Linked DNA regions of Homo sapiens: region 2 is linked to region 1. The links come from fine-mapping of genetic effects on gene expression. Tissue or cell type: unexposed skin. Region 1 holds a variant in brackets; the other region holds the start of a gene. All regions are shown on one strand. Distances are from middle to middle.

Region 1 (4,251 bases):
CCACTGCACCCAGCCAGGATAAACCTTTAAAGAGGCAAGAGTAGCAGAAGAGTACAAAGGAAGAAGCTAGATGAAGATGTGATTTCAGAAGAATTCATCCTCAGGGCCAGGTGCAGTGGCTCACATCTGTAATCCTAGCACTTTGGGAGGCAGAGGCGAGAGGATCACCTGAGGTCAAGAGTTCGAGACCAGCCTGGCCAACGTGGTGAAACTCCGTCCCTACTAAAAATACAAAAATTAGCTGGGCATGGTGGCGGGTGCCTGTAATCTCAGCTACTAGGGAGGCTGTGGCAGGAGAATCGCTTGAACCTGGGAGCCATAGGTTGCAGTGAGTTAAGATCGTGCCACTGCACTCTAGCCAGGGCAACAGAGCAAAACTCCATCTCAAAAGCAAACAAACACAACAAACAAAAAAAAAAAAAAAGAAAAAAGAAAAGGAAAGAAAAGAATAAAAAGAAAAGAAAAGAAAAATAAAAGAATTCATCTTTAGACTGAACCCACAACGAGCTCTGGAGTACAAATTGTTTCCAGAGATTCTACTGCCTAGATGCAAGGGGGCAAGGCTGTTCCACCATTGCATAGGTCAACCACCGCTTACCAGCCACTGGTGAAGAGGAAAGCTGCATACCTTCCCAGGCATCTCTAAGTCACATGGCTCTCACTAGCCAAGGGCTTTCCTCATTGCTGCTAACAATGCAATTTGCTAGTAACCAATACCTGTAGCACCTGGGAGATGGGTTACCCTCCTAACAAAGAAGATGACGTGGTGGTTACCAACAACATCTACCATTCCAGTTTCACTTTTCTCCTGTGCTCTGACTTTCTAAAGGTGCTTCTCTTTGGCCAAAGCCAGAGAGCAAGAGAGACTATGAATGCAAGTGGAAAGATTCAGTTGCTGGGGAACAGACTGAGTGGAAAATGTTGCAGAATGGATGTAGAGGAGCACACACAAAAAATTGTCCAGTGCTTGTCCACAAATCATTCAGTGCTTGCACACAACCTAAGAGATGAAGCTCAAAGTCTTTAGCATAGTGGGCCCTTCTCAGTCTCTTTATTCCATTTTGCAGCTTCATATTCCATGGCTCCCTACCTGATATAGCATATACTCCAGTCAAATTTCTTATCCTTCCACTTCTCAAATACTTTTCCTCTTATCTGATATTGCTCTCCCTAATCTGAGTACATCCTTCTGCTAGCCCACTACAACTTCCCTCATTGTGCTAAACACACACGTATAGTTTTATCCTAACAACAATCACTCTGTACTCCAGTTTGCTACAAGTTATTTCTCAAATAGATTTTTAATTACTTGAGCACAGGAATGGCTTTGTTTTTGCATCATTTTGGCAGAGTAGCAATAAATGAATGAATGGAAGAAATCATGAATGATTCATTCATGTTCTTCAAGATTCCACTTTAAGCAATATCTTTTTAATGGCAACTCTAGCCCCTCCTCCTTGTCTCAAATTTTAGATGCCACTCTACCCTGATTCCATAATACTCTTTACCTAAAATTTTCATAAAATTTACATGGTTCTGTGACAATGTTTCTGTCAGCTGCATGTTACCCCTCACCCCATTGAAGTATGTGCCTTTTATCACAGTATTTCCAGTGCCTTGCAAATAATACACCTTTGAAGAATATGAAAGATTAATAAATGATTGAATGAGTAAATGTGTGTAATAGAGAGTGAAAAATCATAGAATTTCAAGGAGGGACAGCATACTTTTCTTTTTCATTATCAGAGAAAGAACTCCACGTTATGATAAGATTTTAGTAAGTGTGGCATGCACAATGGGCTGCTGAACATTAGGCAGAATATCATAGAAAGATGAAAGATCAGTAGATTTATAGAAAGATGATTGATAGATAGATAGATAGATAGATAGATAGATAGATAGATAGATAGATAGATGATAGACTGATAATTGTTTTAGCTACATAGTATTCAATCCCTATAAGGGAAAATATCCTACTGGTATTATATAAAATTTTATCCATAGTTTTTGAGTAATAGTGCATA[C/T]ACTTAAAGTACTTTAAGGCACTCAAAATGGGTAATTTGTTAACATACTTACAGTGCCATTGGCCCAAATATTTCTAAGAATCTGAATAAGTCTTAGAATTAATACCCTTTTAGGGAAAATAAATTATTTTAACACACCTTGATCTGAAAGTTGTGGATCCTTAGAGTTCCTAAACCTGAGGTCTATTTCATTTAAAATAGAATGAAATTACCTAATTTTATTGAGAAAATTCCTTTGTCTCACTCTTTGAGTTACCGCATAACGCACATGCTAATGTCTACCACAAAAAGAGTCTCAGTTGTTTATCAACCTTGTTGGGTGTAAAGGTTTATTTGGGTATGGTCTGATAGCTTTTGACAGAGATGTAGCTCTTCTAATGGCAGTAATATTCTCCTTTTTCCCTAAACACCTGACTACAATAAAGCAGGGGGATAAAAATTTGCTTAATCATGTGTACGACTAATAATTAATGTCAGTTTAACCCAACTGGAAATACAATGTTCCCTTCGTATTCCTCCTTCAATCTCAATCCTTAATAAAGCAAAGTGTATGCCATCAGTTTCTGGGCTCGGTTTGACTATTTTTATTCAGTTTCTTTACTATCCAGTCTCTTAAGCCATAGTATGTCTTGTAACAAAAAAAAAAAAATCATGCTCTGCTATACCTGATTAAATAATCTTTCTTTAGTCTTCCAAGTCATATTATCTTGTTTAATTTTCCAGTAATACACAGCAATTCTGTATTACTCGATATTGTGCTTTTGCATAATCTTATCTTTCTGCTAACTTAATTAATAGTGGAAAAATTTAAGTGTCGGAGGAGACCTTAGAGATAATTTTAATCTGTTCTCCTTTTATCTACCTGAAAAATTTAAATCCTTAGAAATTGCACAGGTGAGTAAGTGGCTATGCCAGGAAGAGAACCCCATTTTCCCAATTAAGATTCCATGTCTTCATTTATCCCACACTCCTACTTAAGGTGTTATTAATGTCTCTCTTTACTCAATCATGAGTTCATGCATATAAGCTCTTAAAATCTTAGCCCTTACTGTCTGGTGCATATTAAGCAAACTATTAATATCTTATTTTTATTAATTAATTTCATTACATATAATCAGAACTTTTGTTAAATTCAGAAATATGTGAATAATTATCTGCAATATATTTACATAGCCTCTTTCTACAAGGAAAATCAATGTACTTCATAAAATATTTACTCATGATGGTAGGTAGAATAATAACCTCCCTCTGCCAAATATATACATGTCTTTATTCTTCAAACTCAGAGATATGTTATATTACATGGCACGATGGGAATTAAGATTGTTCATCAATTGATCTTGAGATGTGATTATCTTGGATTATCTGAATGAGCCCAATGTTATCACAAGTGTCCTTATAAATGTCAGAAGGAGGTAAAGAGAGTGAACCAGAGAAATGGCTTTGTGAAAAGCATTTGGCCCATACTTGCTGGCTTTGAAGACGGAGGAAGATGGCCATGAGCCAAGGGATATAGATCCCTCTAGAATGTACCAGGACAAGGAATGGAGCCTCCAGAGAAGTACATAGGCTTGTGGACATTTTAATTATAGCCCAGTGAGATCCCTTTCAGTTTTCTCAACTACAGAACTGCAAATAACAAATTTGCTGTTTTAAGCCACTAAATTTGTGGTAATTCATTACAGTAACCACAGAAAACTAATAGACTAATTTTTAGAGAGATATTTTAAAAATTTCAACAGAGACTATCCGTGTAGTCAAATACATTTTAGAACTGTGACAAGAACACTCTAGTAGTGATGAACAACATAAGTACGTGAGGTGGCAGAATGCTCTATATCTGCATTGCCAGTATGTAGTTACTTGAAATTGTCAAGTACAACAGAGGAACTGAATTTTTAATTTTCATTAATTAAAATTTAAATAGCCATGTGTGACTAGTGGCTATCAAGTTGGACAATGCAGTTAGGGCCTAGATTATAACTAAATGCTACTTTCTATATCCTGCCTAGGATTCCAAAGACAATTTTTACCAAATAATACTGTAGCAAATAATAAACAAGCCTTTGGCTGTTCTAAATCCTGGAGCTGTGTTTAGTAAACTGTGTACTCAGTAAATATTTGATAAAGCTTGTGGGAATATGGTGGCAGCCACCATTAATGTCAACGGTAGAGGAAGAAAGTTGCTTGGGAGAAGACATCACTGTTTGCATTCAAATTCCAGCCA
Region 2 (4,251 bases), 55 kb before region 1:
GCCACCACACCCAGCTAATTTTTGTATTTTTGTTAGAGATGGGGTTTCACTATGTCGGCCAGGATGGTCTCAATCTCTTGACCTGTGATCTGCCCGCCTCGGCCTTCCAAAGTATTGGGATTACAGGCATAAGCCACCATGCCCAGCCTCTTCCTTTAAATGTGAAGGCTTCTTGGGAATATTATAGCAATACATTTTAAGTATGGGAAATAAGAAGGAAGCTAAGAAATATTAACTATTTTTCAAGGTTAGCAAGGGTTTACTTGAGGTGTGTAACCTGGACTGCTCATTCCATTCGTTTTAACTAGAAGTATTCTTTCATGGGACAGATGGCAAATTGGTTGGTTATACTAAAATGAAAGAAGACACTTTAAATTCCAGGACTCTCAATCTCTCTCTCAGCAAGGTTTGACCCTTTCTAAAACTATTTCTTATCAAATGAAGTTAGCAATTATGTCAGCTTAAGCAGAAAGACTTTTAAATTGTTTTAGAAAATATTTTAACAATGCCCCTAGATGGGATTTTACATTTTTTTGTATTTTAAAAAACATAATTATAATTATGCTCAAGTTAAACATATTTCTGTATTCATCACCTACCACTGGCCATCTAGATAATGGCAAACTAATGACAGCAGAACGTTTTATCTGCACTTTTCCCTGAGCACTGTTCAAAGGGCATTTATTTCATTCTTTGCATATATTCATGGCCAGATAAAATGCATCACTGGGCTCACTTATAGCAGACATCCTTTACAGTAGTTCAATTCTATCACAATTTTTGGAAATGTAATTTTCTAGCATTAAAGAGGTATTCCTAACTCCATTGGTTTTGAAATGCCATGTTCAAGTCAGAGGCAAATTAAAAGCAAGAAAAAGCGAGCAGCAAAAATAATGCACAGCAAAATAGAATCATTATTACTTTCCATTTGGAACTCCAATTTGAGAGTTTAATAAAGAAAATTAGAAGAAAAATATATAAACTCAGTCGAGTATCTTTCTTAAACTTTATAGAGGTGACATTATAGCATTTGCTAGGGTAAATTGTTCCCTTCAGGATGCACATTAAAAAGCAAATTGTTTTGCTATATACTCCTTTTTTTGAGCTCTTGAAATATTGTTTCTTTTTCTTACCTGTGTTTTCCTAAGCCTCATTAATGAACAGCAGCTAATTCTGAAGATTTGATTTTTTACTCAGTTCTGCCTCTCTCAGATTCCTATGGCCACAGGTAATGGTTTTGAACTTCAAAATTACTTCTTTCTGAGCTTCTCCAGCGAGAAAAATAAAATCCTCAAATGTGAACCCACTCACTCATCTTTTGAATAGTAGTCAGTTCCCTAGAGCAACTCATTTTAAGGGAGGATTTAAATCCATGCCTGTCCCCCGTACATTGGGATGCACTGGAAAGACATTTTCTCCCTCAACATTTTTTCTTTTACTTGGAAATCATTAAGATAATGTTTTTTCCTCTTGCATGTTAATTGGGTAGGTTTTGCATGCCTTGCATTTTCTTTCTCAACGTTTTAGATTATTAACACTCCTTAAAAAAAGTCTATCACACTATTCTTAATGCTGTCATCAAGAGTAAAAAATTTATCTTAGAAAAAAGGGTGGTACTGAAATGTTACTCAATATGATATATGCAGCAATGGAAGACGTGAATTTCTGGAGGTCTCAGTAGCAGAGATCACTTAATTACCCTTGTGGAAATTTATCCTTGTGAAAAAAGGAGGAACTATTTAGTAACTTCATCTGTTTAATGGGATAACAAGACCTACCTCATAAATTAACTATGAGGATTAAATGAGCTAATAATGTAAAGACTCAATAAATAGTCCATGTTGCCTATTTTTGGTATCATTAGCCTTAGTAAAGATACTGAATGTTGTACATGGCAGTTGGGACTTAGCGAAAATTTGGGCTGGCCTGGATCATGAAAAGAAGCTGCTATCTTCTTACCTCCAGAGAGTCATCAGCATTCACCATCCAACAGTCAGTCCAGGTGGCCACAATCAAAAACCCAGCAGAGAAAAAGGCAAAGAAGCAAGCGATGTATTGAAGAAGATCCCTCATTGTGGCAAGCAGCCCATCAGGATGGCAACATGGGCAGACACCAGCCCTGGCCCCACTTAAGTGGCGGGTGTCAGTCTTCTGTGTTTCTGGTACCTGGCAATGTGAAAATACTGGTCTTTTACTTTTTCTCACGCCCTGCTGCAGGTGTCTTGAGTTGCAGTAAGAATAATACAAACAGGCTGTAACCAACAGTGGGGTCCTGGAGGTCATTATCCGAAGCAACCAGCCTCCAATCAGAAGGCAGGTCAGTGCAAGGGCTGAGTGTGTTTCGGGTGGGGGAGAGAGGAGTTCTGTAACGTTTTCTGACCCAACTGTGGGCTAGTGGTGGTCACCAGACCAAGTGCCAGTGCCAAGACGGGGGAAGGAGGAAGGGTCCCACCCCATGCTGGAACCTGTAAACTGATCTTTCTTAGGCCCTCTAGGGAGAGTGAGCTATTCTCCTCCCCACTCGGAAGAAGGCTACACGGTTGACTGAGTGTTATTTTATTGTTAGGACTATTTTAATATTCGCCGACTACTTTAGACAGACAGGCCACTGGTGAAACTATGCTAAACAAGTGCTCGCTCAAGGGAGTCTGCATTCCAAAGTGTTGCGTAGAACAGCCCCATGAAGGACTTGTAGCACCTGGGCAGTAGGGACAGCCAAGGCTCCTAACCTTTCAGCATCGTAGAGTGGGAACAAGTGTGCATTTTAATGCAGACAGCTCTGGGTGGAAATTCTTGCTCTGAATTTATGGTCTGAGAGCCCTTGGGCTGTAGTTTCTGAAAATGCATGTATTAATATTTTCTTTATATAATGCTTGTTCTTCATATGAGGAATAAAAGATATTGTGCCTGTAAGTCGCTTAGAATAGCATCTGTCAGTAATAGCTAAATGGAAAATATTAACATGACTAAGAATTTCCTATATTATTACTTTTCCCTCATGGACCAATGTTTGAAAACGCGTCTAATGAAGAAAAAAAAACTGTTATATTAGGAAGAAAGTGTGTTTCTTTTTTGTAAAAAAAAGTTTTTAATATGTAACTGGGGCAACTGGAATTTTATCTGTATCTGAATAGGTATCCTTAATGGGTCTACAAATTCCATAACCAATACTCTTTAATATGCTTTAAAAAGCACATATATCAACATTTTCTCTTCATCAGGTAGACTTCTATATACTAAAATAAAAATTTTGAATGAGAACAGTAAAAACAAAGTGGTGATTCTTAATGTAGGAGAGAATGTCAAAGGGGAGACAGAGTGAGAGAAAGAAATTGGGAGGGAGAGAAAGAAAGGAGCAGAGAAAAGGCCAGAAAGAGGTAATTACTCTGGCATGAATCAGCTACTAAGATTCTTATTTTACCAACAGCTTATAAAAGGATTACTTTTTTCCATTTGAAAATTATTTGATCATAATATACAGTATAAAAGGCTAAAATCAGTATTGATAAACCATTTTTCAAAATATATTACAATAATAAACTTTTTGTGGCTAAACTTTGTTTTTTCTAATTTTAATTCATTTTATTCAAGTATATAAAACGTAAATTTAAATGTAAAAGCTGCATGGAAAACCATAGGTGGAATATAAGCTTAATTATTTCTATACATAGGGTCTACAGTACCACCCCTGCTATCCAGAATTTCCCTTTTGAGGCTTCAGTTACCAGTGGTTAATCATGGTCTGCAAAAATTACATGGGAAATTTCATAGATAAACAATTCATCAGTGGTAAATTGAACACTGTTCTGAATAGCGTGATGAAATCTCAAGCCATCCCACTTCACATGGGATATGAATCATCCCTTTGGCCAGCATTTCCACATTGTATGCACTACCCACCCCTTAGTCACTTAATAGCTGCCTCGGTGATCTGACCTACTGTTGCGTATAGTGTGTGTAGGATCCAGTACTGTCCTTCGTTTCTGACATCCACTGAGGGTCTTTGAACATATTCCTCAAGGAGAAGGGGTGATTACTGTACACATTAGCGATCGTTATAACTATCTGCGAGGTACATTACAGATGCTTTTATTTTACTTATTTTGTTTAACAGTTGGAAAAAAAATACCTGTTTTTTAAGTGCTCATTCAAAGAATGTCATTGCCCACGGAATACAAACATGCTGCTTTGGTGAGTCACAGAGAATCTTTCCCTGTGCCCTAAAATCTGAAATGCTATTAAGATTTACTC

What was found. PIP is the estimated chance that this variant, and not a neighbour inherited with it, causes the effect. A credible set is the group of variants that fine-mapping cannot tell apart.
Region 2: CLDN16 starts here. The variant in region 1 is the best candidate, but not a certain one, in a credible set for the expression of CLDN16 in unexposed skin (GTEx, PIP 0.59).

What each region holds. Positions count from the first base shown.
Region 1 is chr3:190,331,197-190,335,447 of GRCh38, reverse strand. It overlaps a transcript of CLDN16 not described here. Among named protein-coding and RNA genes, the nearest start is that of CLDN1, 11 kb to the right of the region's middle. The variant C/T (reference allele first, on the strand shown) is at 2,025.
Region 2 is chr3:190,386,152-190,390,402 of GRCh38, reverse strand. It overlaps CLDN16 (claudin 16), which reads right to left and starts at 2,240. Exons shown (of 5, transcript NM_006580.4): 1 at 1,960-2,240. The coding sequence starts at 2,073. RefSeq lists an enhancer at 3,689-3,983.